Regions from separate parts of the Homo sapiens genome. Here region 2 is linked to region 1. Evidence: fine-mapped expression QTL. A gene starts in region 1. The other region holds a variant in brackets. All regions are shown on one strand. Distances are from middle to middle. Region 1 holds the start of HEIH (hepatocellular carcinoma up-regulated EZH2-associated long non-coding RNA). Region 2 has its middle 13 kb from the start of LINC00847.

Evidence for each region. PIP is the estimated chance that this variant, and not a neighbour inherited with it, causes the effect.
Region 2: its variant is fine-mapped to the expression of HEIH in unexposed skin (GTEx, PIP 0.97).

Annotation. Positions count from the first base shown.
Region 1 is chr5:180,827,864-180,844,452 of GRCh38, forward strand. It overlaps HEIH (hepatocellular carcinoma up-regulated EZH2-associated long non-coding RNA), which reads right to left and starts at 3,755. Exons shown (of 1, transcript NR_045680.1): 1 at 2,091-3,755. It overlaps LINC00847 (long intergenic non-protein coding RNA 847), which reads left to right and starts at 3,094. Exons shown (of 3, transcript NR_045679.1): 1 at 3,094-3,366; 2 at 4,810-4,997; 3 at 6,449-7,863. It also overlaps a transcript of ZFP62 not described here. RefSeq lists silencers at 3,320-3,369, 3,730-3,859, 4,300-4,469.
Region 2 is chr5:180,810,351-180,825,554 of GRCh38, forward strand. It overlaps a transcript of MGAT1 not described here. Among named protein-coding and RNA genes, the nearest start is that of LINC00847, 13 kb to the right of the region's middle. RefSeq lists silencers at 502-751, 14,319-14,613 and an enhancer at 3,986-4,245. The variant CG/C (reference allele first, on the strand shown) is at 9,752.

The sequences.
Region 1 (16,589 bases):
TGCGGGCAGCAATACTGCTTTGTAAAGCATTGAGATGTTTATGTGTATGCATATCTAAAAGCACAGCACTTGATTCTTTACCTTGTCTATGATGCAAAGACCTTTGTTCACGTGTTTGTCTGCTGACTCTCTCCCCGCTATTGTCTTGTGACCCTGACACATCCCCCTCTCGGAGAAACACCCACAAATGATCAATAAATACTAAGGGAACTCAGAGGCTGGCGGGATCCTCCATATGCTGAACGCTGGTTCCCCGGGCCCCCTTATTTCTTTCTCTATACTTTGTCTCTGTGTCTTTTTCTTTTCCAAGTCTCTCGTTCCACCTAACGAGAAACACCCACAGGTGTGGAGGGGCAACCCACCCCTTCAACGTGCCCTGCCAAACCTCTGGTGGTAAGGCTTCGATTACTAAATGGAAGAAAGGGACACAGGGTGTTTTGGAGTTGACACCTAGCTCTTTGGAGGTGACTCAGATCACTCAGGAGAGTCCGTAAGGCCCGGTGGGCAACACCCCAATCCTCCAGTCTCTACCCAAGAAGCTCCACCTTCATCTATTTGAGGGTTCTATGTTGCGGGAAGTCAGGGACCCCGAATGGAAGGACCAGCTGGAGCTGTGGCAGAAGAACATAAATTGTGAAGATTTTATTTTAATATGGACATTTATCAGTTCCCAAATAATGCTTTTATAATTTCTTATGCCTGTCTTTACTTTAATCTCTTAATCCTGTTATCTTCATAAGCTGAGCATGTATGTCACCTCAGGATCACTATGATAATTGTGTTAACTGTACAAATTGATTATAAAACGTGTGTTTGAACAATATGAAATCAGTGCACCTTGAAAAAGAACAGAATAACAGCAATTTTTAGGGAACAAGGGAAGACAACCATAAGGTCTGACTGCCTGCGGGGTCAGGCAAAAAGAGCCATATTTTTCTTCTTGCAGAGAGCCTATAAATGGACGTGCAAGTAGGGAAGATATTGCTGAATTCTTTTCCTAGCAAGGAATATTAATAATTAAGACCCTGGGAAAGGAATGCATTCCTGGGGGTAGGTCTATAAATGGCTGCTCTGGGAGTGTCTGTCCTATGCGGTAGCGATAAGGACTGAGATACGTCCTGGTCTCCTGCAGTACCCTCAGCCTTATTAGGATTGGGAAACTCCATCCTGGTAAATTTTTGGTCAGACCGGTTCTCTGCTCTTAGACCCTGTTTTCTGTTAAGGTGTTTATCAAGACACTACGTGCACCACTGAACATAGACCCTTATCAGGAGTTCTGCCTTTTGCCCCTTGTCCTGTTTCCTCAGAAGCATGTGATCTTTGTTCTGCCTTTTGCCCTTTGTCCTGTTTCCTCAGAGGCATGTGATCTTTGTTCTGCCTTTTGCCCTTTGTCCTGTTTCCTCAGAGGCATGTGATCTTTGTTCTGCCTTTTGCCCTTTGTCCTGTTTCCTCAGAAGCATGTGATCTTTGTTCTGCCTTTTGCCCTTTGAAGCATATGATCTTTGTTCCTACTCCCTGTTCGTACACTCCCTCCCCTTTTGAAATCCTTAATAAAAACCTGCTGGTTTTACGGCTCAGGTGAGCATCACGGTCCTACCAATATGTGATGTCACCCCCGGTGGCCCAGCTGTAAAATTCCGCTCTTTGTACTCTTTATTTCTCAGCCGGCCAACATTTATGGAAAATAGAAAGAACCTATGTTGAAATATTGGGGGTGGGTTCCCCCGATATCTGGCCCCTATCGGGTTCCCCCGATAGTTCTATCTAAATTTTTATCTGAAAAATAAGTTTCTCTGCTTTAAAAAAGAAACTTTGAAGACCATTTTACAGAAGAATTGGTTTGCCAAGGTGGAAAGAGAAGCTCATCAGTGACGTGACTTAGCCAAAAGCACTGGTTATACCTCTATACCTCGGAGCCGACACTGAAAGCCCCGGCCATAGTCTTTCTGCCCCAAGGAAAGCCTGGGGTGGGGGTGGGTGATATTGTCAAGAGCCAGGCCCCAGCTCCTCATACACACAGCTCATTTGCTCTCCCTCCCAACCCCCACCTTCATACTTCTTCCACACGCATACCAAAGAAAATAAGAATCTCAAGGTTGGAAAATCCCACTTTACTTCAAGTGAAGTCACTGGGTTGTCCCCATGAAATATCTCCACAATGGGTGTGCTAGACCTTTACTCTCTGTGGCACCACCAAGACCCCCTCACCCTGCCAGAGCCCTCTGAAGTGTACTCAGAATGGAGGGGCTGGAAGTGGGGCCAGTGGTCCTGGTAGTCAGCCTCCCCTTCTGACACAAGAATTATCGTGGAACAGCTTGTGTGACCGATCAACTGGTCTCTCCATCTTTAAGCCATTGTCTTGTTGACTCTGTTACTGCAGAGTTTGGGGAGGTCTCATGGCTTCTCGCATCCTATTTCCTGAGCTTCCCTGAAGCCAACTTCTGGCCACTGGTATGTGATGCGAGCACAGTGCCTCCTCCTGCTCCTCCAGGAAGCTTCTGCTGATTGAACGCAGGCCAGATGGCGAGATCCGGAGCAACCTTCTTAGATCAAGGGAAGAAAGGGGCACAAGAGGGGAGTAGGTAACAAGATAAAAGGAGCTCCCTCCCTGATGACTACAGAGCCATCGTGGCAGCCCTGGGCCTCCATTTCAGACGTTCATCTTGCCTAAGCCACCACCATCAGGGTCTCAGTCAGTCATCATTCTCATTTACTCGGGTGGCTGGGTGAGGGCGGAATACTACCTTCCAGCTGTCTGAGATTAAGCCTAAGCCACCACCATCAGGGTCTCAGTCAGTCATCATTCTCATTTACTCGGGTGGCTGGGCGAGGGCGGAATACTACCTTCCAGCTGTCTGAGATTAAGCAGAACAGCAGCTAAAGCAGTAACAGCAGGTCTCCTTCAGCAGCTTGCCACAGGGAAGAGGGTCCCGCGTGAACCGAACTCAACTTCCACCTGCGCAGAGGTAGCTACCATTTGCGTAGAGGTAGCTGGGTCTTTAAGGTTAGAGGGAAGGCGCAGGGAGGGAGAGACGGCGGGTGGGGGTTGAACAAAGTGGAGATTCACAAAAGCAGACTAGGGCGGGCGACGTGATCAGATGACCTGTGCGGGCGGCAGCCTCCTGCCCTCCTCCCCTTCGTGCGCCGGCTGGAGCGAAGAGTTCTTTTGACAGCCGTGAGCTTCCCCGCCAGGAACTTACTGGGGCTGCATCACCCTAGAAACGTGGCTTTGGGCTGTGGAAACGCTGCCTCTGTGGAAGTCTCTCCTCGCGGGGGTGGACGGGTCGCTGCGCGCCCAGCGTTCTTCTGCGGTTCTCACAGCCCGCCGCCGCCGCCGCCTCGGGGACCTTTGCGGGGAGGCCTCAGGTCAGCGCCGCCCTTGCGATGGCGGGAGAGCAGAGCGGCCCCAGGGCCTCTGAGCTCCGGCCCCGGCACGTCCCGCCCTCTCCTCCGCTTGCGGGAGCCGGGGCGCCTCGGAGGGAAACCTTCCGGACACAGGCCGGGAGAAGAGGGGCCGTGGCGCCATCGCGCAGCTTCCTGGTTTCGGCCATGTTTTTTTTTTTTTGAGACGGAGTTTCGCTCTTTTTGCCCAGGCTGGAGGGCAATGGCGCCGTCTCGGCTCCCTGCAGCCGCCGCCTCCCGGGTTGAAGGGACTCTCCGGCCTCAGGCCGCGGTGTTCTTGTAAATTAGAACCGGCCTATGCGCCAAGCGCGGGTCTCGCGGCTGCGGAGAGAGGCCCAGCAGGGGGCGGGGACGCCGGGAGGCGGGGCCTGGCCGAGCTGCGCACACCCGGGTGGTTCTGGCTACGGGTACCCGGACCTGCCCAACGACCGTTCTCCATTCCCGACCTCCGCACCCTACCCGGTCCGCAGGGCACCTTCCTCCTCTCTCTCAGGCACGTCCTCGACCTCAGTTGCCACGTGCACATGCTGGTGCCTTCCAGGTCGGTCTTTCTCCACCAGACTCCACCTGGAACTTTCTTCCTTTTCGTCCTGTGCTGGCCTAACCCCTGCTCGGCCTCGGCCCTCAGCTGCCGGCTCTAACAAAGCCTCTGTCTTTCCCAGACCCCTGTGACCAGGTCAGGCTCTGCTCCCTGCGTTCCTCTCTCCTTGCTTCCCTCCTCCTCCCCTCCCCAGAATCGCTTGAACCTGGGAGGCAGACGTTGCAGTGAGCTGAGATCGCACCATTGCACTCCAGCCTGGGTGACAAGAGCGAGACTCCATCTCAAAACAAAAAACAAAAAACACAACTCTTGCTGGCTCCTTGATTTTAGCCCAGTGAGATTCACTTCTAATTTCTTTTTTTCTTTGAGACAGTCTGTTCTGTCACCCAGGCTGGAGTGCAGTGGCGTAATCATGGCTCACTGCAGCCTCAACCTTCCTGGACTCAAGTGAACCTTCCACCTCAGCCTCCCAGGTAGCCGGGACTACAGGGGTGCACCAGCATGCCTGGCTAATTTTTGCATTTTTTGTAGAGATGGGGTTTCACTATGTTGCCCAGGCTGGTCTGAAACTCCTGTGCCCCAGCAGTCCTCCTGCCTTGGTCTCCCAAAGTTCTGAGATTACAGGCATGAGCCACTGCGCCTGGGCTTCCATTTCTGATTTCCAAAACTCTAGGATAATAAATTTACATTGTTTTAAGCCACCAAATTGTAGTAATCTGTTACAGCAGCAATAAGAAATGAATACAGCCATGCTTGATAATTCCTTTATCAAAAGCTACCTATTGGTGTTAGGAAGTATTGTTTTAAATTCTAAGACAGTGTTTTCACTTTCTATCTTGTGCACTGACTACCTCATGACCCCTTAGGTACCAGTCAGGACTGGTAGACTTTAATGTGGAGAACTTCTGAAACAGCAGTTCTCAAAATGTTACCTCCAGACACACAGAATCTGCATCACCCAGGAACTTGTAACCATGCAAATTCTCAGCCACCCAGACTTCCTGCATCAGAAACTCTGGGGCCCAGCAGCCTGTGTTTTAACAAAGCCCTTCAGGTGATTCTGACACTTGCTCAAGTTTGAGAACCGCTGTTCTAGGAGCTGGTCCTGCAGGGAAAGGGTGGCCTCTCAGTTCAGGTTCCAGTGTGGCTGGGGGTGGGGGTCAAGGTGAGGGTTTGGTTGTTGTGTCTGACAGTCAGCCAGGCTTGAGCACACGGACTGTTTACAAGGCTGCACTTTCCATGTTCTGGTCAGCAGTCTCCTGGTTCATTCCGTTACGAATGGACTGTCACCCCAAAATTAATGTTGAAATCTATTTCTCTATTTGGAGGTGGGGCCTTTGGGAGGTAATTAGGTCATGAGAGTGGAGCCCTCATGAATGGAATGACTGCCTAAGAGAACAGAGATGGCTCACACCTGTAATCCCAGCACTTTGGGAGGCTGAGGTGGGCGGATCACGAGGTCAAGAGATCGAGACCATCCTGGCTAACACGGTGAAACCCCATCTCCACTAAAATACAAAAAATTAACCAGGTGTGGCAGCGGGTGCCTGTAGTCCCAGCTACTCAGGAGGCTGAGGCAGGAGAATGGTGTAAACCTGGGAGGCAGAGCTTTCAGTGAGCTGAGACTGCGCCACTGCACTCCAGCCTGGGCGATACGGTGAAACTCTGTCTCAAAAAAAAAAAAAAAAAAAGAGAACAGAGAGCTAGCTTGCTGATTTTCTGCCATATGAGGATACAGTAAGAGGGCAGCCATCTGCAACTTGTAAGATGACCCTCACCATAACGTGACCATGCTGGCACCACGATCTCAGACTTCTAACCCCCAGAACTGAGAAATAAATTTCTCCACCACTCTATGACACGGTATTTTTTTTTTTTTTTTGAGATGGAGTCTCGCTCTATTGCCCAGGCTGGAGCGCAGTGGCACGATCTCGGCTCACTGCAACCTCTGCCTCCCGGGTTCAAGCGATTCTCCTGCCTCAGCCTCCTGAGTAGCTGGGATTACAGGTATGCGCCACCACACCTGGCTAAGTTTTGTATTTTTAATAGAGATGGGGTTTCACCGTGTTAGCCAGGATGGTCTCGATCTCCTGACCTCATGATCCGCCCGCCTCGGCCTCCCAAAGTGCTGGGATTACAGGCGTGAGCCACTGCGCCCAGCTGGCATGGTATTTGTTATAGCAACCCAAGCTAAGACACTCCATGTTATGGACTGAATGCTCGTCTGCCCCCAAAGTTTCTATGCTGAGATCCTAACCCCTTTGTGATGGTAACAGGAAGTGGGAACTTTGGGAAGTAACTAATTAGGCCATGATGGTAGGGCCCTCATGAGTGGGATTAGTGGCTGTCTTAGTCCATTTTGTGCTGCTATAATAGAATACCCGAGACTGGGTAATTTATATAGAACAGATGTTTGTTCTCTCACAGCTGTTGCATTAGGGATAGATGGAAAGACTTATTTATGTATTGACTGACTGATTGATGGGGCCTTGTTCTGTTGCCTAGGCTGGAGTATAGTGGCATGATCATAGATCACTGCAGCCTCAAACTCCTGGGCTCAAGCGATCCTCCCACCTCAGCCTCCATATAGCTGGTGGGGACCAAGTTTCTAACACATGAATGTTGGGAGACACATTCAGACCATCGCAGTGGCCTTATAAAAAGAGACACAAGAGCTTGCTCTCTGCCATGTGAGAATACCACAAGAAGACTGTCCTCAGCAAATCAGAAAGCGGGTGGACCCTCATCAGACACCAGATGTGCCTGCACCTTGATCTTGGACTTGCCAGCCTTCAGAACAGTAAGAAAGAAATGTGTGTTGTTTAAGCCACCCAGTCTATGGTAACTTGCTATAGCAGCCCACTAGGAGACCCCAAGATATTTAAAAACTCATCAGCACCTGCTTTCTGCATCTGGACCCTGATCTTCTGGTGGGTTTACCAGTTACTTGTAGAGTGTCCCTGTGATAGTTTTAGGTGTCAACTTGACAGGATTGAGGGATGCCTAGATGGCTGGGGAAGCACTGTTTCTGAGAAGGACCATGTTTTTGGAGGAGACTGTTTTATGAGTGAATTTCAGGGGACACATTCAGATCATGGCAGTGGCATTATAAAGAGAGACACAAAAGCTTGCTCTCTCTCTCTGCCATGTAAGACTACCACACAAAGACTGCCATCTGCAAACCAGAAGCAGGTGGGCTTTCCTCAGACACCAGATCTGCCTGCACCTTGATCTTGGACTTGCCAGCCTTCAGAACTCTAAGAAAGAAATGGTAGCATGGCTTGGTCTAAGTTGGAAGGCCTGAGAAACAAGCACATGGTGGAACTGAGTTCAAGGATAAAGACTTGAGAATACCTGCTCAGTGGACTGAGTAGGGAAGATCAACCCTCAATGTAGGCAGGCACTATCCAATCACCTGAGGGCCCAGATGGAACAAAAAGGTGGAAGAAGGGTGAATTCTCTCTTCCAGAGCTGTGACACCCTTCTCATGCCCTTGTACCACACAACTCTAGGTCCTTTGGCCTTTGGACTCTGACACTTGCACCAGTGGCCCTCTGGGGCTCTCAAGCCTTTAGCCTTGAACTTAGTTACACCATGTGCCTCCTTGTTTCTCAGGCCTTCCAACTTGGATCAGGCCATGCCACCGGCTTCTCTGATTCTCCAGCTTGCAGATGGTATATTGTGACCCTGGCATTTAATAACTATGACTTTGGTCTTAAGCAATTTTCTTCCTCTGTGGATTGATATTTACATATCAATGTGGATAATAATTTCTTACCACGGTAACTGTTGTGAGGTAAAAATGAGTTAACATAAGTAAAACCGAGCACATGCAAACCATCCGAAATGGTTAATACTTACTATTTGTACTTGAAGAAATAAATGTTTTTGACAATAAACTTCTTGTGCAGTTTTCCTCAGCCAGTGTCAACTGAGCCGATCATTTATGTGACAGTTTCATTACCAAATGGATGTTCTCACCACTATTTCAAGTGCAGTATGAAACTTTATTTGAAATTCTAAAAAACTAATTAATTAATTAAGGTTGTTTGGCTCTTGCAGCCTGTATTAATTTCCTAGGGCAGCCGTAACAAAGGAGTCACATACCACATGACATTTTGGTCAGCAGCAGGCTGCGTTTCTGACAGTACTCCATACAATTATAACACCATTATTTTTACGGTACCTTTTCTATGGTTAGATACACAAATACTTACCGTGTTACAGTTGCCTACAGTATTCAGAGTACAGTCACATGCTGTACTGGTTTGCAGCCCCGGCGCATTAGGCCATGCCGTGCAGCCTAGCTGTGTAGTAGGCTCTCCTGGCTAGGTTTGTGAGTGTGCCCTCTATGATGTTCACACAACGGCCTAACGATGCATTTCTCACAACGTATCCACGTTAAGTGACCCATGACTATTCATTCTACAAACTGAGAAGCTTAAGTAACAGAAATTTATTTTCTCACAGACTTGGAAGACAGAAGCCTGAAATCAAGTTGTTAGTAGGGCCATTGCCCTCTGAAGGCTCTAGAGGCAAATCTTTTCTTGCCTCTTTCAGCTTCCGGTGGCTCCCAGCAATCCCTGACATTCTTTTCCTTGTAGTAACACAACTCTAATCCCTACCTCAGTCTTCACACAGTGTTCTCCCCTGTGGGTCTCTCAATCTCTCACTCCTCATAAGGACAAGTCTTTGCATTCAGGGCCCCTCAAATCCAGTGTGACCTCATCTTAATTTGATTACCTTTGTAAAGATGCAATTTCCAAATAAGGTCACATTTGTATGTACTGCGGGTTAGGACTTGAACATATATTTTTAGGGGGCACAAGTGAACCCACATCAGAGGTCAAGCCACAAAGCAGCCTACATGGCGAAACCAGTCTTGTCGTGAAAATGTAAACTGAGGTAAGGGCCATGCTGCCTTGGAAAGCGTTCTGTGTTGTCATTCCAGAGCCACGGGGGCTGGATAGTGACAACAGAGGTGGGTTGCAGATCTATGGGCTACTCTTTGCAGAGGCAGTAAGTAGGGACTGCCACAGCATTCAATTAATTTCCTGTAAGAATACATTTTATTCAAGTTGATAAAAAAGCTATACTTATTAATATTGCATAACATTCCTGTGCTATCAAATGAGAATCTCCAGAAATGAATTTGAATAGCTATAAAACCCACATTTTTCTGCAGATACATGTGTAGCCACCTGAGAGCCAGGTCCCTCAGTGTCCACAGACATAGCCCTGCCACCTACCGCCTGCTTCCCAGAGCAATGAAGCTTCTGCTAACTCAGGCTTATCCCAGTCTCTATTTCAGGCCATCAGCTGGATGAAGAATTAATTTAGTAAGCATGAAACAGCTTGCAAAGCATTGGTGAGTGGCTGAGGGCCATGAAACGAGACCACCGTGTGGCCCATCTCTGAAGATGAATCCAACAGCAGTGACTCTACCTGCGTCCTCCCCATCTTTTCTGCTTTTTCATACAATGGCTTATTCACTGCGTGTGACATCATCACTAGCACTGTGTTTATCTATCACATTTCTTCTGTTTTGTGGGTTTGTTTTGCATTAAAGGTCTACTTCTCTGAGCTTTGAGCTGTAAGGCTTGACTGTGAGCAGCAACTGAAGAGTGTGGCACCTCACACTCGGTAGGAAGAAGCTGAATGACAGATGTCGGCAGTGAGGGTGGGGAAAGCAGCCAGGTACCAAGCAGCTGTTTTTTAGGCTAACCATTGAAGGGAAGCTCCTAATCCCTGAGTTAACTTTTAGCAGAGATTAACTCAGTCTATCTATTGGGATGTAAAGGATTTGGGCATAAAGGTATGTTAATTCGGAGGCTCTGGAATGTATAACAATTTCTCCCATTGAAATTTATGATAATTAAGTGTTCAACTTACTGGAATTTTCCCCACAAGACTCTTCTGGGATGAATTTGCCTTGGGGAGAAGACTACGTAACTGAAAACCAGCATCCAGGCCCTCAAGAAGAAATATAATCTCCAACAGTCTCCTTTTCAATTTCTGTCAAATGTCTGGCTTCTCTTGAAGGGATGTTCACGAGAAGGGACAGCCGCCCTCCTCCGAGCCTCCTGTTTCAGCTGATGCACCTTCAAGTACAAGGTCCTGTTCTTGGGCTCTGTTAAAGTTTCCCTCAAGAAAAAAACCTTACATTTGCCAATGCACTTGATGTAAAGTTGTTGAGGATGTTGACTCTCCTTTAAACATTTATTGAAGCTAGGAATAAACTTAACTGGACCTGTGTATAGGAAATCTTAAATTTCTACTAAGAGATGAAAAAAAGAATTCCCTTCCCTTCCTTAACAATTCAGCTCCCGTTACACAAAACCAAACAAGATGGGATTCTGTTGTGGGGGGACAGAACTTCATTGTCCTGAAGCTAGGTGTTGGAGCCCAAGCAGGGTGAGGAGGGAGTCAAGGAGGCCCATGTGGTGGTGGAGCATGGCCTGGCATGGGTCTCAGTGCCCAAGCAAGGTGAAGAGGGGACCATGCAGGGAGTGAGGGTGTCACTGCCCAAGTGAGGTGAGTAGGGCAATTTTGAAAAGTCATGAAAGTTGAGGAAGGGCTGAGGCACCATTCTAGATTGAAGGAGACTAAAAAGATGCAACACTCACAATGCACAATTCTAAACTGAAATCTTTGCTCTAAAGGACATTAGGACAATGAAAGAAACTTGCACGGGGTCTGAGCATTAGGTAGTAGTAATGAATTGATGTTGAGTCCCTAATTTTCATGGTTGTATGCTGATGATGTAGGAGGTTCTTGTAGGAAATACACACTCAAAAGTATTCTGAGGTGATGGGGCATCATATCAGAAGCTTATTCTCAAATGGTTCAGGAAGGAAAAAGTTTTATACTATACTTCTTTGGCAAGTTTAGATTGTTTCAAAATAAAATTTTTTTAAAAAGAGCATTTGTTAACCATCAGTTTGGTAAAAGGTGAAAAATGTTGATAATACCTAGTGTTTGTGAAGGTGTGGAGAAACAAAGTTTCATACACTATTGTCAAAAGTATAAATTGTTACAATATTTTTGGAGAGCAATTTTCCAGTATGTAGCAAAAATTTAAAAGCAAATCTTAACTCAGCAATTCTGCCTTTAGAAATGTATTTGTAGGATAACATACAGGAGAGAAAAATGTATTTTACTGCAACACTGTTGATACTAACAAAAACTGGAAACCACCAAAACATTTATCATGAGGGGGTTAAGTAAAGTATGGTATAACTATACAATGAGTGTACTAGGAAACCCTTAGAAAGAATGCAGAAAGATGTATGTGGACTTTTACAGAAAGGTGAGCTACTGTCTAAATGCAAATGTGCCAATATCATGTATATACAGTCAGGTTCCTTTTGTTAAAAACCAAAAGCGTATGTTTAGAAGCAAAAGCACTCATATAAAGGCCTGGTATAGAGCAGTGGCTAAAAACAGTGCCAAGATACTGCCTCAACTTCCTCTCACATGCTGCCCTGGTGATACTGAGGCTGGTTCAGGAACCATGACAGCCTGTTTGTATGAATTCCTTAAAGCACAAATTACTTAGTTTCTTTCATAACAGTCACCTAATCCCTTAGTTTAAAATGGTTGTGTTCATGGAATACTATGCAGCCATAAAAAAGGAGATCACATCCTTTGCAGCAACATGAGTGGAGCTGGAGGCCATTATCCTAAGAGAACTAATGCTGCAACGGAAAAACCAAATACCGCATGTTTTCACTTACAAGTGGGAGCTAAACAATGAGAACACATGGATACAAAGAGGGGAAAAACAGACACTGAGGCCTACTTGAGGGTGAAGGGCAGGAGGAGGAAGAGTATCAGAAAAAATTCCTATTGGGTACTATGCTTATTACCTGGGTGATGAAACAATTTGAACACCAAATCCCTGTGACACAGTTTACCTACATAACAAACCTGCACATGTACTCCTGAACCTAAAAGTTACAATAAATAAAAAATAAAATGGTTGTGTCCTGACAGGAAATAAGTGTTCCAGATCTGCTTGCCTCCTACCCCCTTAAGAACTCCCAGCGCCAAGGACAGCTTCACAGTGATGTGCTGAATTTGTTTTTTCTCTGCCCCACCCACCATTTTGCTTCTGGTAAGATTTTGAATCCCTGGTTAATTAATGAAGAACTAACCTTACAATGGGTATATGCTTGTGGTCCCTTTCCACCAGCCCCCAGCCCACCTAACATACTAGTTGTGGGACTGCCTAAAGAAAGAATGTCAGGAAGGCCAGAGAGGCGAGCTGAGGATCCCCAGGTGGAGGCCTCCACAGTAAGTGCCACAAGGCCATTGCATCATGAGGGCGTGTTCCATGAAGATGTTCTAGCCATGGTGTTTGTCCACTGTCCCATGTGCCTGACTGCTTGGGCACAGTGGACAGTGGTCTTAGCCAAGGCCTAGTTATGTTCAGGGGCAGATCCCTGGCTTCTCCTAAATGCACTGGCCGTGAAAAGGGGCAGTCAGCTTCAGAGGGAGTTGAGGAGCTGGGGATGGGGAAGGCTTTGAAGATGCCCCTCAAAGCCCCACTGGATGTCAATCAGCCAGTTTCCAGACAAGATAAACTAGATAACTTGCAGGATTCTAGGTGTGGGTAGAGATGAGAATCAAACTGGGAAACGTAACTCTTCCCATAGAAGCAGCTAAAATGGCTGGGCATGGTGGCTCAGGCCTGTAATCCCAGCACTTTGGGAGGCTGAGGCAGGTGGATCATAAGGTCAGGAGTTCGAGACAAGCCTGGCCAACACAGTGAAACCCCATCTCTACTAAAAATACAAAAATGAGCCGGGCATGTGGTGGGCGCCTGTAATCCCAGCTACTCAGGAGGCTAAGGCAGGAGAATCGCTTGAACCCTGGAGGTGGAGGTTGCAGTGAGCCAAGATCCCGCCACTGCACTCTATCTAGCCTGGGCGACAGAGCGAGAATCTGCCTCAAAAAAAAAATAGAAGTAGCTAAAACAATTTGTGTGTGTGTGTGTGTGTGTGTGTGTGTGTGTTGGGGTTGGGGAGGAAGGTGTTAAGATCACAGGAATAAATAAAAATGTTAGCATAGTATTGCTATCACAGTATTTCTGTTGTTACATGCTTGAGTCAATCTTTGTTTTTAGAGGAAAAAAGCGTCCAGAAAAAGAAGGACGCTGGAACCTAGGAACTCCATGATTTGTGCTGAGGTTTTTTTGTTTTTTGTTGCAATGGTGTATTCTGAGGACAGGGTCTAAGAAATAACTTCTTAGTTATTCAAATGACTTCTGAATGAAACATTAAAAATACTGAATTGAAATGACCCCAAAACGTCTTAACTATTAGCAAATAGCTAACCTCTTGTATCCCAGATATTGTTTTGTGGAAAGAAAATGAACTTGCTGGATAAGAGACCAACTGAAACAAAATGGAAAGCATGGCAGTGTGCTATATCCATATATATATACACACACACACACACATATATATATACATACATATATATACATACACATATATATATACATACACACATATATATATATATATATACTTTTTACTAAGGCTAGGAACTTGAGGCGAGGATTTTTTCTTTCCCAGTTTGGATTCCCTTTAGAATTTTGGGTTCAGACAACAACTTTTACAGTTCTTGAACCAAGTTCCCTTTTACTGAAAGTTAACAAAATACAAAGAGGGGCTGTGGGCTGTGGGCTGTGAAAGGATTCTGTAGAAAATTGTAAGGCCCAGATTAAGAGCATGCAGACAGCAGTCTATCAGTCAGATTCTAACCTGAAAATCAGAAACCACTCAAGTGTTCAGATGGAAGAAATCTAATGCAGAGAATAGGTGACACACTCAGAGTCAACATCAGAGAAAGCACTGCCACAGATGCTATCAGACACAGCTTTTAAACTAAAAATGCTACTATGTTCAAGGAAAATAAAGCTACATTTGAGAATCTGGCATACTATGAAAAAGGAAGAAGGTCCAGTGCTGTGGCTCATGCCTGTAATCCTAGAGCTTTGGGAAGCTGGGGTGGGCAGATCACTTGAGGTCAGGAGTTTGAGACCAGCCTGGCAACACAGCACAACCCCTCTCTACTAAAAATACAAAAATTAGCCAGGCATGGTGGTGCACACCTGTAATCCCAGTTACATGGGAGGCGTAAGAATTGCTTGAACCTGGAAGGCAGAGGTTGCTGTGAGCCCAGATTTTGCCACTGTACTCCAACCTTGGGCGACAGAGTGATACTCCGTCTCCAGAAAAAAGGAAGCAAATGAAAAGTCTATTACTGAGAAACAGAAAAACTTAAATTGAGCACTCAATGGGTATATTTAAGCCAGATTACATAGCTAAAGAGAAACTTAGTGAACTGGAAGGTAAATTAGATCCAGAATGAAGCCTGGGTAAGGAGTAGGGGACAAAAGGATGGAAACGAGCACTTAAGAGGCACAGGAGATACAGTGAGAAGGCTTTATTTGGAGTCCTAGAAGGAAATGAAAAAAGAATGGTATAGAGCTAATATCTGAGCACACAATGGCTGAGAATTTACCAAAACTCATGAAAGATAAATACACAAATTTAAAAGCCCAGAGTATACAAAAAAGGATCACTTATAAAAAATCCACACCAAAATAAAACACAGTGAAACTGGAATAAACCGAAGATTAAAAAAATCTTAAAAGAAGCTATTTTAAAAAGAATACATTAAACTGGCAGATGAACAGCCAGAGTGGAAATCACACTTCAGTGGCTTAATGCATCCAATGTGACAAAAGAACATGAGGTCTAACCTAGAATTCTATTCCCACAAAAAACCATTTTTAAGAATGAAGTTATTTTTAGGCAAATAAAAATTGTGAAGTTTTACCTCTAACAGGACAGAGTATTCTAAAGAAAGTTTTCTAGAGAGAAGGAAAATGTCCCCAAATAAAAAATTGCAGAGGTGGAGAAGAATGAAAGGAAATGAAAAGGTTGGGCATGGTGGCTCATGCCTGTAATCCTAGCAATTTGGGAGGCCAAGGCAGGTGGATCACCTGAGGTCAGGAGTTCAAGACCAGCCTGGCCAACACAGTGAAACCCCCGTCTCTACTAAAAATACAACAATTAGCCGGGCATGGTGGTGTGTGCCTATAGTCCCAGCTACTGGGGAGGCTGAGGTAGGAGAATTGCTTGAATCTGGGAGGTAGCCATTGCAGTGAGCCGAGATTTTGCCACTGCACTCCAGCCTGGGTGACAAAGCAAGACTGTCTCCAAAAAAAAAAAATAAATAAATAAATTTAAAAAAAAAGAAAAGTAATTAAACGTTTGGTATAGAAAATAATAACATATTTTAATATATATGTACATTTATATGTATATATAATTAAAATTAACCAAAACAACAGCATATAGGATGGAAGGTAAGAAGTATTCTAGGAACTTTGCATTGTCTAGGACGAAGATAAAAGTATCAATTAACATTAGGCTTTGGTAAGTCAAGAATCCACCTTTTAATTCCTAGGCCACTAAAAGAAGAGAAAAAGTATATAACTTCCAAACCAAAAGATGGAAAAATAGAGTATGAATAGAATCATTCATAACTATAAATTAAAGGGCTAAATGATCCTGTTAAAGTAAGTTATCAGACTGGATTAAAACAAACTATATGCTATTTCCAAGAGGTACATCTAAAACATAAAAATACAGAAAGCGTGAAAGTAAAGAAAGAGAAATGCCATATAACGGTAACCAAAAAAGAAGCTGATGTTATTAATACCAGAAAAAAAGAGACTTTTAGTAAAAGGCATTACTAGGGATAAAAGGTTTACTTCATAAAATTTCAATTCATATAACAATTTTATATTTGTGTGGCCTCAAATATATAAAGCAAAGTTCACAGAACTATATCTAAGTAGAGATAACTCAACAATTGTCTCATTAATAGAAGCAAATAAAACTTCATTAAGAGCAGAGAAGATATGAACAACGTATTACAATCTAATGGCTTTATGTAGATGACTGCATGCGGCATCTGCAGAACATGCATTCTTTTCAAGTGCCCACAAATCTTCACTAAGGTTAAACACATGCTGGGCCATAAAGCAAATCTCAACACAATTCAAAGGACAGCAGTCACATGGACCATGTTTTGTAACAACAATAACAAAAATATAACTAGGAAATTCCCATGTTTGGAAGTTAAAAAATATACTTCTAAATAAGCCATGGAATCTGTTGTGATTTCCCAATTTTCATTCCTGACTTTGATTATTTGTGCTTTTCTTTCTCAATCACATCAGAGGTTTACCAATTTTGTCTTTTCAAAGCAGCAACCTTGACTTTGTTGTTCTTTGTTGTGTTTGCTGTTTCATCAACTTTTGCTCTCATTCTTATCTCCTTCAACTTTTAAAAAGATAGTCAATTTAACAACGTTTGTACAAAATTTTTATAAAGTACAGAGCATTTTTATTAAGCCTTAAAATAATCTTGTAAACAGGTCTTTTCCCTCATTTTACAGATGGGAAAATGACAGAACAGGAAATAAATCCATATTATTGCACTGAATGGAATATGGCCCCATGGTTTGCACCCAAGACCAGAGGAACTTCACCTGCTCCTCTCTGGGGCTTTGCCCTGCCCACCCCAGGACCACTACTTATCCTCTGAGATCTTAAGGGACACTC
Region 2 (15,204 bases), 18 kb before region 1:
CCACTGTTCACAGGGCTGAAGAACAGGTGTGGGCAGAACCAGGTTGTGAGAAGGAAGCCGGGCGCAGAGTAGCGGCCGTACAGGAGGGGGAGGGGCAGAAGAGACTGGCCAGCAGCGGAAGCGCGCGGCAGGTGGAGCCGCGCGGGAAGAAGCACGCATGCGTCGCGGGGGGGTTGGCCCTTGGGGTGCTGGGCGGAGCTTGGGAGGGGCGAGGACGCTGAAGTAGGGGCGGAACCTGTGCGGTGCAGCCCTGCCCTCTCCCTCCGCCCAAAGGTCGCCCAGCGACGGCCTGCTTGACCTGGTTTCTCAAAAAGGGTGACCCCCCCCCTCCGCCCCACGCTGGTCGCGGGTCCTGGCGAGAAGCCTTTCGGAAAGCACCGGGGCCTGTGTGTTCCCGCTTCCTCGGACGCGAGCTCTGTGTAGCCGTGGTGGAGGAAGGTTTTGTTTCGTTCATCGCTGCTGTTTCTCGCTGCCTCTCTTGACGAGGCAGGGCCCTTGCAGGGTGCGCCCGCGCTGCCCTCTGACAGGTGCTGTTGGTACCTGCGGCCGGGCCCGCCGTCGCCGGCGCGTGAACGGCCTGCCCGAGGCTGCCGGGAGGAGGGCTGCCTGGCCGGCGCGGCCCTTCCCGTCGTGCCCCGGGCTCCTCGGAAGCAGCCTCCCGCTCCTTCAGACGTCGGACTCCTGAGTTTCGAACCTGCCCCGCGGTTTCCCCCTCACGCTGAATCCAGGGGAGCCGCTACTCGTTTTTGAAGTTCCTATGCAGCCCTCTCCCGACATGTTCGAGAATCTTGCCGGACTGGGGATGGATTTGCAGCCTCCGTGTTTGCCCCCACGGTTCGAAAACCGGAATCTAGGCCCGGTCTCCTGGCCTGTGTTCTGTCGTGGGATTTCTCCAGAGCACGGACTGACTTAACATTTCCATTACTGGGAATGTAATGGTTGCTGCGTCAGGACTCTGGAGATGATTTTTTTATTTGGAACGATATAATTTTTGGAATTTCCTTAAAGGGAAAAATACATATTGCTTAATTATATTGCTTGGGATATATTATTGCAAGGAAGAAGAAAATAAGACCCTTTCTTCCCCCACCTTCAAACCTTCTCCGCCCACCTGTCTTTCCCATGGGCATTAATGGCGGCTCCATTTACTCAGGCCAGAACCAGAAGAGCCAGCTTCACTCTCTCACCCCCTCTACACAATCTGACTAGAAATCCTGTTGACCCTACCTTCAATCTGTGTCTAGGATGCAACACCTCAACATGTCCACACCCCCCTTCATCCCTCACCTGAACACCTAGGTCTCCCTGCCCTCCCTACCCTCCCAGTCGCTGGGTTTCCGTACAGCAGCCACAGGGATCCTGTCGTTTCTGTGCTCCAAACTGCACAGCGGCTCCTCAGTTTACTTGAAATAAAACGCCAAAGTCCTTACAATGGCTGCAGAGCCGGACAACCCACTGGCCTGCCTAGCTGTCTGACCTGCTCTCCCCTTCCTCTGTTAGCTGCATTGGCCTCTGCACCGGCTGTTGTCTATTTGTAAAACACCCCTTCCAGGCATTTCCAGGACTGAACCCTTCAGCTCTTTCAAATCTTTCCTCCCATGTCACCTCAGTGAGGCCTTTCCTGACCAACCTGTTTAAACCTGCCCCTGACCCAGAGCACTGCTAGTCTCCCTTGGCCTGCTCCACTTTTCCCAGGACGCTCACCACTTCCTGAAATACTCGCCGGGTTTACCATGTATTGTCTGTCTCCCACTACTAGAATTTAAGTTCCCTGAGTGGAGGCACATTTGATTTTTGATTGCTATATCCCGGTGGCTGCAACAGTTGGCTGGCCCATGGTAGCAGCTCAGCACACATTTGTGGAATAAATGAACCAATGAATGAACTTGAAAAGCTACTTTCACCGCAGAGTATTCCCCTTCGGGCTTCTCTCACATGGAAATATATGAACATAGGTATAAGCACAGTATACAGATTTTGCATTATGATTTCTAATCATACCATAGAGACTTTACATATTTCTAAGTATTTTCATAATTATAACCATTTTTACTTAAGTGACCTTCGATTTTTCGTGCTTGTTATAACAAGTCATACAGAGTTGTGTAAATAAAAATTTGTCTCCTGTCCCCCTCTCATCCCACCCTGCTGAAAGGAACCACTTTTAAACTAGTGGATATCTTTCCAAATATTTTTTATACACACGCACACACACACAGGCACACACACACACACATACATAACAGGTACAAATTTCACAGTCCAAAGACAGATATTCCTGAATTGTAACTTTATTTTCTATAATTCGAGTCAATTTGTATTTTAGGTCTTTCCTCCCATAGTAGAAAAATGAAATCTAGTTTATTTAAGGTAAATGTTAGTATGTAATGATGTTTATTTATTAATGAGCAATTACAATTTAATTTCAGTTGCTTCAGAATTTACTAATGCCCTTCTCTCCTTTTCACCATATAATTGCCGGTTTTAAAAAATTATTAAAAAATATGCAATAATTACAGGAAAATATAAATGATAAAATAAAAAAGCAAAAACCACCTGTAAAACCAGCAGCTAGAAATAAGTTTATGAAAAATATACTTCTATGGCATTTTTAATGACCAAGTGGCATACTATTATACAAATGTACCATAATTATCTCCCCTATTTTTGTACATTTGGGTTGTTTTCAACTTTTCACTTTTGCAAAATTACTTGTAGCTAAATCTGTGTGCACGTCATTTTTTTTTTTTTTAGGATAAAGTCTGGGAACTCGTGTCGAAAGGTGTGCTCATTGTTGAAGGCGTTTGTTTGATATGAAAGATACACAGAAAGATGGCACAGCTTTGACACCAACTTTTCTCCACACCCTGCACTGTCACACCATTTTTTGTCATCTTTGTTAATATGATAGAACGATGGTTTTGCATTGTTGTTTTAAGTTTTATTCCACTAATTGCTAGTAATGTTGAACCTGTTTTTATGCATCACTTTTGCAGATTGCCTACAGCATATCTTTTGCCCACTTGGATTCATCTTTGTCTTATTCATTTGCAAGAACTCTTTATAGAATATCAGCCCTTTGTTACCTATGTTACAGCAATTTTCCCAGTTTGTCATTTGCTTTTTAAGTCTGTTTATGTGCTCTTTTGACATTGCAGTAGTCACCGCTAGCTGGGCCAAAAGTCTGGTCTTGCTGTACATACTGCCTTCAGAATAAACACTTAGGAGTAAGCTAGAGATTTTTGTTATCAGTTACTCCACCTAGAGGACCAGCAGGTGGAGTCTCCATGGGCAGAGTCTCGCGGACTGTCATTTGGTGTGGGGTGGCCAAGAGGGACTGAACATCTGGAGAACATGGTTGTCGGGCTCTTTATACCAGTGGACCCCTCTTTCCTATGGAAGCCTCGCATCTCCATCAGAAGCAGCAGTAAAATGGCCTCTGCTGTCTTCTGCCTTTCAAGTCTAACTCAAGGGCACCTGAGTAGGTGAACCTAATTGCAAGGGAGTTAGATATGTAACCTATTCAACTAGAAAGAAGGTAGCCAGAGGGGCTACCTACAGTCCCCACCAAACTTATGTATCAGGGCTTCCCATCCTGGCTGTTGAATTACCTATTCTGGCAGCTGTTCCAGTCAATACAGCTGATAGTAAATTTTAATAACTGGCAGTAAAAGTCTTCCCCAGTAACCCTGATTTTCAATGTTTTGTTGGCCATTTTCACACATTTTTTCAGGTGTATATTTTTTCACACTATTTGTTCAGATGATCATTGTAATTCATTTCAGAAACTAGATATCTCTTGTAATTTCCTGGGCTTCTCCTTACCCTGGCGAGTATTCTTTGTACCGATTTTAGTCTGAAGTCTGGTAGGTACAAAAGTTAGTTTGTGTATTTGCTATTTGTTAGGTGCCCTTCATCCTGGTATTTAAAATTCTGGCCCATAAAGAAACAACCACACTCACTTGTTCCCTCAATCTTATTGTGCCTCTTGGCAGCTTCTGACATTGTCAACCGCTCCCTTCTTCTGACACACTTCTCTTGACTCCCACGCCAGCACGCTCTCTGGGGTTCCCCCTCCTCTGGCTGCTCCTCCTCAGCATCCTAGCAGGCTTCTCCCTTTTCTCTCTTTACCCACCACTTGCTGTACAAATGCGGAGTTCCCTAGGGCTCTTTCCTGGGCCCTTGTGTCTTCTCATTTTACACTTTCTTTCGAGATGATCCCACAGAAGTCACATGGCTTCCAGTATCCACTCCATGTCAAAGATACTTAGTCTGTTTCTATTGCTTATGACAGAATATCTGAAACTGGGGTCGGGTGCAGTGGCTCACGCTTGTAATCTCAGCACTTTGGGAGGCTGAGGCGGGTGGGTCATGAGGTCAGGAGTTGAAGACCAACCTGACCAAGATGGTGAAACCCCATCCCTACTAAAAATATAAAAATTAGCCAGGCGTGGTGGCAGGTGCCTGTAATCCCAGCTACCCCAGAGGCTGAGGCAGGAGAATCGCTTGAACCCGGGGGGGCGGTGGTTGCAGTGAGCTGAGATCGCGCCACTGCACTCCAGCCTAGGCGACAGAGTGAGACTCTGTCTCAAAAAAAAAAAAAAATTAAAAATTAAAAACAAGGAATATCTGAAACTGGGTAATTTATAAGGAAAGGGAATTTATTTCTTACAGCTCTGGAGGCTGAGAAGTCCAAAGTTGAGGGGCTGCATTTGGTGAGAGCCCTCTTGATGGTAGGAACTCTCTGCAGAGTCCTGAGGGGTTCAGGGCATGACATGGCAGGGGGACTGAGCGTGCTAAGGTGCTAGCGCAGGTCTCTCTTCCTCTCTTATAAAGCCGCCAGTTCTCCCATGATGAATCCATTCATTAGTGGGAATAGAGCCTTCATGATCCAATCACCTCTTAAAGGCCCCACCTCTCCATGCTGCCACTCTGGGGATTAAGTTTCAACATAAGTTTTGGAGGGAACACCCAAATATGCATGCTCAAGTCCCTTCTCTGTGCTCCAGGCCCACATGTCCAATTCCCTGCTTGCCCTCCCAACTCAGTCCCCTCACAGATACCTCTGACTCACGTGTCCAAAGTGAAATTTGCAGTGCTCCTCCCAGCTCCTCTCTCAGCAGTCCCGTTCTCAGGAAATGGCAGGCCAGAAGTCTTCCACAACATTCCCACATCCAGTCAGTCAAAAGCCTCCGAAAGCTTGTCTCCCGGTTATTTCGTGGCTCTTTTCCTCCACCCTCTCCTTTGACCTGGCCAATACCCTCCTGAAACTCCTTCCTCTTTTACGTCTCTTTTCATGTGTGATTCATTAGATCCACTAAGTTCCACCCCTAGAAGGAGAGGGTGGACTTTCCTGCAACACTGAAGACAAATTTCCCTCTTCCCCTTTTTCATGTTCCCTGTGACTTTTTAAATTAAAAAAAAAAATTCTTTTTTGTTTTGGCCCTGAGTTGCACTGTAAATACAGGACTGAAGATGACGTGACAAACCCAGACATCGCCATGCCTAAGGCGTAGAGCTGAAGACTTTTTATGTGTCATAAGGAATTCTAGCAAAACCCAGAATATTCAGCAGGAACATGGAATGGAGTTGGGGTGGAAGATACAGAAATTTCAGTTCCATTCAATCATGGGGTAACAGTTACCTAAGTCCCCTAAAAAATCACAGCACTTTCTCGCCTCATTTTACAATGAAGGATGTCTGGTCTTGCCTTATTTATTCCTTGTATGGTTATTTTAATTACGTTTATTTTGGAGCCGGGTGCGGTGGCTCATGCCTGTAATCCCAGCACTTTGGGAGGCCGAGGCAGACGGATCACCTGAGGTCAGAAGTTTGAGACCAGCCTGGCCAATATGGTAAAACCCCATCTCTACTAACAATACAAAAATCAGCCGGGCGTGGTGGCGCATACCTGTAATCCCAGCTAGTAGGGAGGCTGAGGCAGGAGAATCGCTTGAACCTGGGAGGCGGAGGTTGCAGTGAGTCGAGTACGTGCCACTGCACTCCAGCCTGGGTGACACAGCAAGACACCATCTCAAAAATAAATAAAAAAAAAATTTTTGAACATTTCTCCACAATTAGATATGAGCTTCTTAAGGACAAACATTCTGTTTACCTTAAAATAATCATATATTTCTATATTAGTGCAATTCAATGAATATTTATGGGTGGGCTCAGATCCTGGCTCCTCTCATTTCCGTGGACTCCAGGGATCCAGTTTCCTCTTCATAAAGCGAGGATAATGAAATCTGTCCTTCACCCCTGGCAAGGCACTCATGAGGATCAGGTGAAACCATGTGTGTGGGAACCCTTTTAAAACCGCAAAGAGCTGCATAAACATCTGAGGGCTTTAGGTTCGCAGATACAATCGGAAGGCGCCTGGCGCTGCTGGGCATTGAGCTTCCAGGGGGCACTTGGTGGAGAGCCCTGCACTCCCCTCCCTGAGGAAGCAGTTCCCATAGTTCCCGTTTCCCACCTGGCCTCTCCTTTTCAGGGCTCCTAAAGAGTGATCTTCACAGAGAAAGCCAGTCTGTTTAAACGATATTGTAAGTTCTGAATATCACCAGGTCTATTTTTTAAGTCTGAATTTACATTTAAATCAGGAGCATTTGTCCAGGCCAGTAATTTTTCAGCCCAGCTCCTCCAGACGGTGTGTGTCCATTACCAGTGAGAATTTGAAACCTTCCTGACGCCAGGAGGCTGAGGTTTTCCTGCACTGGGCCTCCACTTGTGTGTGGAAGGGGAGGGGCGGCAGGGAGGCAGGAAGAGGGGTATGGAGGGAGAAGGGTGGGAGAGGAAGGTCAAGGAAGCACAGTTATAAATAGAAGCGTCTTTTGCCTTCAAGATATTTCAGGTCACATGGAGAAAGGAAATTCACTCTTAAGAAATAACAAAGAAACAAAAGACTGAAGTCAATTCAGAAGTGCTGACACAAAGACCGGTTTGGAGGCAGTAAAATTAATCAGGATTGCCTCCTGGGAGTAGGTGGGTCACCACAAGGTCTTGAAAGCAACCAGGGGAAAAAGGAACTCCTGGTTTGGGGATCATAAATCTCTCTTCAAGAACAACCAAACTCCAGTATGAGTATTTACGCTCCTTATCATCTAAGCTGGGTCTGAGGTCAGGAGCTTGGATTCTGGTCTTCATTCCAGGGTCCAGCTCATCACAGACCCTGAGCAAATTCTTTACTCATCTCCTTGTGCAGGAACAGTTGAAAAGTACTTTGGGGAAAACCAGTTTTAACTATTACTCCCAAACCTTAATTAGAACTGTATAATTCTTTATCTTTTGTGAAATGAGTTTTAAACTAGAACAACCATTGTAATTATTAGAAACATTTTAAATAATTGTCAGTAATAATCTTCATTCGTCATAAAAAGGGAAACACATCTATTAATCTTTCAAAGCACAGTTCTCTGATCTTTTTCCAGGTGTATGATTCACTCTTTTCTACCTTATTTTGTGACAAAATGTGGTCTGTACGAGGCCCCCACTCAGTATCAACACAGGACGCCTTCCAAAACAATGCAAGAATGTAGGTTCAAGACTGTTTCACGCCCCAGCAAGCACTCATTAGGTGGCATTCAAGGCAAGTTTAAAAAAAAGGGGGGGCGGGCACAAACTTCTGGGGGTTAATAATTTAGTACCGTGCCTGCCACTACCCAGTTGTCGCTGGTTTGTGGCAATCACAGCTGCGTTGTGTCACACCACTGATTAATTCCTAGGAACTGCTAAGGGCTGACCTTTTCAGATGACTGACCTGCCTAAATAAATCAAACCCATTTGAGGTCATGTCTGTGGGCACAGCAAGCTGACTTGCCTTCTCGAGTGGGTGAAAAACAATTGGCATTTCAGTGAGGAACTGGATGTAATACATGAAATGGCTCAGATCTACTCAGCTGGAACCCAGGTGAGGAGAATATTCTGAGTAAAAAAATCATGATTTGTTGTTTTCTGGGCTTTGGCACTATACAGAACACCACAGGCAGTTTGTTCCAGGGTAGAGGTCAGGGATGGCTGGCCTGAGGGACACACAGACCCCAGACTCATCTCCCTCTCTCAGCCAGGGCGGTAGCTCTCCCTTCACCTCCTGATGTCCTCGGACTTTATTCCCAGCTCAAATGCCACGCTCCTCGAAAGTGCAGTACGCTGTCAGGATGAGCTTTCGTTGCCCTACGTTGGAATTCACTGTGGCACAGCTGTCCCTGGCTTTCCTCCTTTTCCTATTTCTCAGTCCCACAGCAGTGTCTTGAGAGGACTTGGGTGGATGTGCAGCAGCTGCAGGGATGAAGTAGACAGGAGCAGCCATGGAAGAAACTCAGGTTTCAGTGAAGCACTATGAGGAGGTCCTCCCAGGGAGGCTGTGGAATCAAAATGTTAAAAGGGGTAGAAAAAAAGCGAGCTACAAGATGAAGATTTTGCCTACCACGTTTTGAGAAAATTTAAAAAGATAAGCGATACAGTGAATGAGACAGGACTTTCGGCTAAAATCGGAGTAAAATTTGTAGATTCCAGTAAACCAAATCCCTAGAGAAGAGTCCCAGCCAAGACAATGTTAGAAACTTGGTTGCAAATTGTACAAGTTTGAACTGAGAAGGCCAAGTTTGTGGGTTAATGGAAAAGAGAAAAATAGGCATCCCAAGAAGGATACATTGTTTTCCCATTAAAGAAGCAAGGAAATACACTTTGAAAAGTAAGTATGGGAAAGAATGAGGTTAGGGCTACACAGAGATGCCATGGCACACTGGTTATCTCCCTTGGGTTCAAATGCCAACTGTACCACAATGCTGTGTGCCCACGGGCAAATTCTTAACCTCTCTGTGCCTGTTTCCCCACCTGCCACATGGAAGATTTATAATGGCCACCTCATGGTTTTATGAAAGTTGGAAGAGTTGTCAGCCATGGTGTCTGGCACATAGTACTGTTATATTATTTTATTATATAACAATTTATATTATTATTTTATTATATTATATATTATAAATTATATATTATATTATATATTGTATATAATTATATAATATATAATATAATTATATATTATATATTATATATATTTTATATATTATAATTATATATTATAATTACCTATATTATATAATATATTATATAATTATGTTTTATATTATATTATATAGTATAATACAAATTATATGTTATATATAAAAAATAATAAAATTTGAAATATCTAGTGTCATTTATTTGGAATAAAAGAGGGAACTTTATGGATAACCTGATCAAATCCTCTGTGATTCCACAGATGAGGAAACACAATGTCATTATATGATTTTATTAATCATTCCAGACTCATTTTATTTTCTGGGTCACCGTTAAATGGCTTTCATTTACTTAAATCTTGTCTTCCAATATGATTCTTGAATGCAAGAACTTGTGTCTTAACTGTGTGCTCCTAACAGTGTTAGGCACACATAGCAGAACTTAAATACTGGTTAGATTTTTTTAAATACATAATTTCAAATTTATTCCAGTGGCAACCATTTCCACATTAACAATGATTAGGAGTTTTTTGTTGTTGTTTTTATTTTTTTATTTTATTTATTTTTATTTATTTATTTATTTTGAGATGGAGTGTTGCTCTGTGGCCCAGGCTGGAGTGCAGTGGTGCGATCTCGGCTCACTGCAAGCTCCGCCTCCCGGGTTCACGCCATTCTCCTGCCTCAGCCTCCCGAGTAGCTGGGACTACAGGTGCCCCCCAGCGCGCCCAGCTAATTTTTTGTATTTTTAGTAGAGA[CG/C]GGGTTTCACCATGTTTGTCAGGATTGTCTCGATCTCCTGACCTCGTCATCTGCCCGCCTCGGCCTCCCAAAGTGCTGGGATTACAGGCGTGAGCCACCGCCTGCAATGTTTTTGTTAAATACCAGTTTGATTTGACTTTTTTTAAACTCTAATGCCAATTTAAAAGACCCAGATGGCCCTGGCAGAAGAGTCTGGATGAGCAAGTGTTAACAAAGGGTGATAAGGCCTCAGAAGGCATTGTGGCCAGGCAGAGAGAGAGAGGAGAGAACCAGTGAAGAAAGACTCGGTTCTTTGGAAGGAGGCCCTGCAAGGCCCTGGAGCCCAGCCCACGGTCCTGGTTGCCAAAGACTTGGAGAAGTCTTGTCCAGGAGGTGACGTTCATCCTTGCCTCTAGCCAAAGGTTAAAGGAACAGCCTGAACAGGAGGAAGGCAGGGAAGAGTGCAGCGCTTCATGATAACATCGGTGTGCGAGCAATTCCACACAATAACTGACCTTCTGTTGAGGGATGGGGTGTAGGGTGGGAAAAAGAAGAATAACAGGAAAAACCAAGCCCAAAGGTCCTGATCCTGAGGGGATGGACAGACCTGGCCTATGTGGGGCAGAGAGTGGGCTTTGATGGAAAGGCAAGAGTCTGGTAGGCGGGTGGGGTAGGGTGGGGATCAGAGTGTATTGCCTGAATTTAGTCTCATAAAACTTGTGTGTGTGTGTACACTGGCTGATGGTCCTCCTGAACTGTAGTCACAGTCCAGAATGCCTGAAGCACCTGATATGATAATGAAACTCCCAGGGTGTTCTTTGTGAAAACGATGTTGGGTCAGCAGCCAGGTGTTAGTTTCACACTCACAGGTGAGGGAAAATCACTCTTCTGGAACCACCCTACCTTGTCACTGAGTCTACAGTCCCAGCATACAGACGGCAATGCTTCCTTTAATTTGGGGTTCCCAGTTTTAGTTGGTTGTAATCACTTTCTAAAAGCATACACTGGACACATTGTTGCCTGGAGTCTTAGGCAGTAAGTGATAATGTTGGGCAAGAGGCACTGTCCAAATGGCCATGTGATTTTTTTGTTTATTTCTTCCTTTAAAGGGAAGACTGAAATCCTTGAAGATTACTTGACGTAAGTCCTCAGAACCACCCCAAATGGTTTTGAAAGATTTATAACTTCTCTCATGTGCTCAGTATATGATGCTCTTACTTAGGAAGAGGAAGAAAAAATGTTTACAGTTTCACTTTGAGCTTTAAAAAATTCCTATAACAATTAGCTCTTGATTCAGAAATTATAAATAAAACTGTTTTATTTTCCAATTTACTGAAACATTGTGTCCTGTAATGTTTTAGTCTTCATTGGTCCAGGGATTTAATTTTAATCTTGCACTTTTTTGTAGAAAACAGCTTATGAATCTTAACTCTAAATATTTATTGTTCTGTACCAATTGTACTGATCTCTTATGTTGGAGATTTGCATTCATGCGTGGATGAAATGGATTTGCCATTCTTTATTAGTGGACAATAATGACTGACCACGGAATTGGGTATAAGTACAGGCTTTAAAGGCAGAGAAACCTACATTTGAAATGAACCCTGTTATACAGGAACACTATGACTCTGAAAGGCATATGAATACTTGGAGCCTCAATGTGCTTAGCTGTAAAATGGGAACAATCAGATTATCTACTTTACAGAGCTGTTGTGAGGCCTATATAAAGCCTTGCGTGGCTGAGATAGTGCTAGTAGTACCCACCAAATCCCCTCTCAGTTTCCTCTTCATGAACATAACACTACATTTGCCACCAGTTTGAGTCCATGTGACGGCTCTAGCCAATAAGCCACCATATAGATACATGTTGTAGGTGATGCAATTACAAGATAGAGGAGGGTTGTCCAATCCACAAAGGACCTTATGTGAGCAAGCGATCGGCCTTTTATTTGTAAAGCCACTGAAATTTGAGGTTTGTTTTTTTTTTTTTTTTGTGCTACGGGAGCATTGTCTAGCTTACCCTAATACATTGGACATATGATAAACAATTGATAAATTTTGGTATTGAAAGCCGGGCGCAGTGGCTCTTACCTGTAATCCCAGCACTTTGGGAGGCCGAGGCGGGCAGATCACCTGAGGTGGGTGTTCAAGACCAGCCTGACCAACATGGTGAAACCCCGTCTCTACTAAAAATACAAAAAATGAGTCGGGCATGGTGGTGGGCACCTGTAATCCCAGCTACTCGGGAAGCTGAGGCAGGAGAATTGCTTGAACCCAGGAGGTGGAGGTTGTAGTGAACCGAGATCGTGCCACTGCACTCCAGCCTGGGCAACACAGCAAGACTCCATCTAAAAAAAAAAAATTGGTATTTAAGGTGTCTGTGAACCAATGTGGAATGATGCCTTGAACATACATTATTAAGAGAGAGAAGCAAGACAGAACAGAGTGTATAGTGCGCCACATTTTGTGTAAGAAAGAAGGATAAATTAAAATGTATATATGTACTTGCTCATGTTTGCAAAAAGAAACACAGGAGAGGAAAAACCAGAAACGAATCAACTTGATGACCTATCCTTGTAGGGAGACTGGGGCAGGGTGGTGGGGATGTGCACAGGCGTGAGACTTCTCTGATCAAATGTTTTTACACAATGTTGATTTTTGAACCATTTATTCTCTATATATTCAGAAATAAAAGTAATTTATAAAGGAAAATGCCTTAAAATTGTACCTTAAGAGAAATAAATGACCAACTCTATATAAAATTGATCCAAACCAACAATAAACAAAAAGGTTAATTTGGGTAACTTGAACATATTACTCTGACTATATCTATATATCAATATTATTAGGAACTAGGAATTTTTCTGTATAAGAGGAAAAAGATAAAATATAAAAAAATAATGTAAACACTTATGTTAAATTTCAATAGCAATACAAACTCATACTATTTCATTATATATATATTTTTATTATATATATATTCATTACATATGTAAATAAAGCATCCTAGTTGTGTTCCTGAAAAAGCGTACGATGACACCCTAGTGGTAACGAACATAACTAACCCTCATATCTTGCATCTCCTGCTGTAATAAATGGTACAGGCAAGAATAATCAATGGATACTGAAACCATTACATAAACGTGGCAGGGCAATAGAATATTCCTACAGGGGCAAAGTACACCCCACAAATCATTCAGTAATTTAAAAGGAAAAAAATGTTGGATCCAATTTATACCCAGCCAGCACATCCATTTGACCCTGCCTGCCCCTGGGGACCCACTACCCTGATCCTAGGTAAAGCAGCTCCAGTGATGGCCGCAAAGTTCCAGCTTCCACCTTGTCACCTTACCTCCTATAATGACAGGCACCGCTGTCTTTGGCAAGGCCATGTCATTCCACCTGCCAGGGCAGGAGCTGCAGCAACTCCTGTGCCCAGGTCCAGCAGGAGCCCCGGGTGAACTGGCTTTCCCAGTGGCTGTGTCGAGGCAGCTAGCAACACAATCCTGAAGTACAAGTGCTTTACCACCACGTGAGCTTTGCCTTGTAGGACTCCTCTGAGGTGCAACGGAGCTACACAGCACCTCCAAAGATGTCTCACATAGCCAAGCGGCCAGCTGTGCTGTTTATCAAGCAGTGGCTAATTCAGCAGCAGACCATCTTGTAGTTTCCCCCTCAATTCATTTTTCCCCTTTCACAGCATTGCACCCCCACCCTGCAAAGCAATAGCATGTAAACTTTGCCTCAGTTGATGTTCCAGGCAAAGGTACCTTCTCATGGACATATAATAATTACTTTCTCAACAGGTCATCCCCCTGAGCATCGCTGCTGGCAAAAACCCAGTGTGAGGACCTCCTCATGGAATACCTGTAAAGTATTCTTTATAGCCAAATAAATAAATAAATAAAAGAAAAAAGTTTATTCAAACCTAAAACCTAACTTCCATTATAAGGGCTTAAAAGTAAAAGTTAAAGGACACCATCAGGAAACAATCGGGCAAGCCAGGGATGTGTGACCTTCTCTAAGACAGCTGGCCCAGATTCCTCAAGTCAATGTCGTAAATCAAAACCAAACAGAAGTTAAGGTGGGGGAGATTTTCCAGATTAGCCTCCAGATGGAATCCATAAGCCTTGATTAGCTCTCGGGGGAAACTGCATACAAACATTTAAGGTACAATTGCAAAAATTTTAAAATGACTTGGATATTAGTTGTGATTGTAGAATCATTGTTAAGTTTCCTAGGTATGATAGTGGTATTGCGGTTATACAGGAGATTTTCTTTATTCTTAGGAGATTCATATTGAAGCACTTACGGATCATGATGCCATACTGACAACTTATTTTCAAAAATGGTGTGTATCATGTGTTTGTGGGGAGACAGAGAGAGGAGAAAAACCAAATATGGTAAAACGTTAACAACCATTGAATCTAGATGAAAAGCATTTGTGGTTTCTTTTGACATTTTTCAGTGTTGAAAATTTTCATAATAGAAGGCAGACAGATAAATATCAGTAAAAAGCAGATAAAATTGAGGATATATTTGTATTTGAAGAGCTTTTTAAAGCCATGTTTTCTTTTCCTCAACCAGTTTCAAATAAGCAGCCAATACTTTATCAGGAACTAATTCATCCACCTCAGAATGGATATTCACACCCAAATTGCTGTGCTTTCAAAAGCTTTTTAACCTCTTGTTTGTTGCTAGCACTTTCCCAGTGGAAAGAATTTGATGCCATTTCCGCACACCCAAATTCCTGTTGGCAGGATAATCAGCAAGTAATACAGAGAGCTGCTTCCTTCAACAGCTGCATTCAGCACAAAACCGAGGGCCGATTATGTGGAGAAATATCCTTCAGAGGTAAGGCATCAGGTAAAGGCATCAGTGATCTTTTCCATGCATTCCAAATACTGTATTGGATCAAACTGGAGCAGCATCATTCTCTACAGCTGTGCTGGCAACAGACAGACACAAATGAACTATTTAATATGGCAAAATGCACAGCTGTTTGAGGCTTCTATTATTAGCACCAGTTCTCGACTCACTGGGAAAACTCTTCTTCAACTTGTTAATGCGACAGTTTTATTTGTTTGGACGCAGCTTTCCATTATCATTCTTCCCACCCCAAACTTCCCTTTATCCCCAAGATGTCTCCAGACAGAGGTGTTTCCAGCTGGCCCCAGTTCAGCTGATCTCCAGTCTGTCTGCCCATGAGAGTCCCAGGAGAGCATGCCGTCTAACTAAGCCGCCTGGGCTTTGCTCTGGACCCCTAAGGAGTCCCTACAGGTCAGGTCTTCCCTGCTCCATCCAGAGAGGGGCCCCTCTCATACTGCAGAATGCTCGAAGTCCACAAATGTTCATTCTCCCCTTCGTTACTAGTAGAACTCACTCAGTTAAGGCTGAGCTCACGGTAGGCAACCTCAAACTCTCAGTGGCTTATCAAAAAAGTCATTTATTTTTCTTGCAGGCTGGTGGAGGC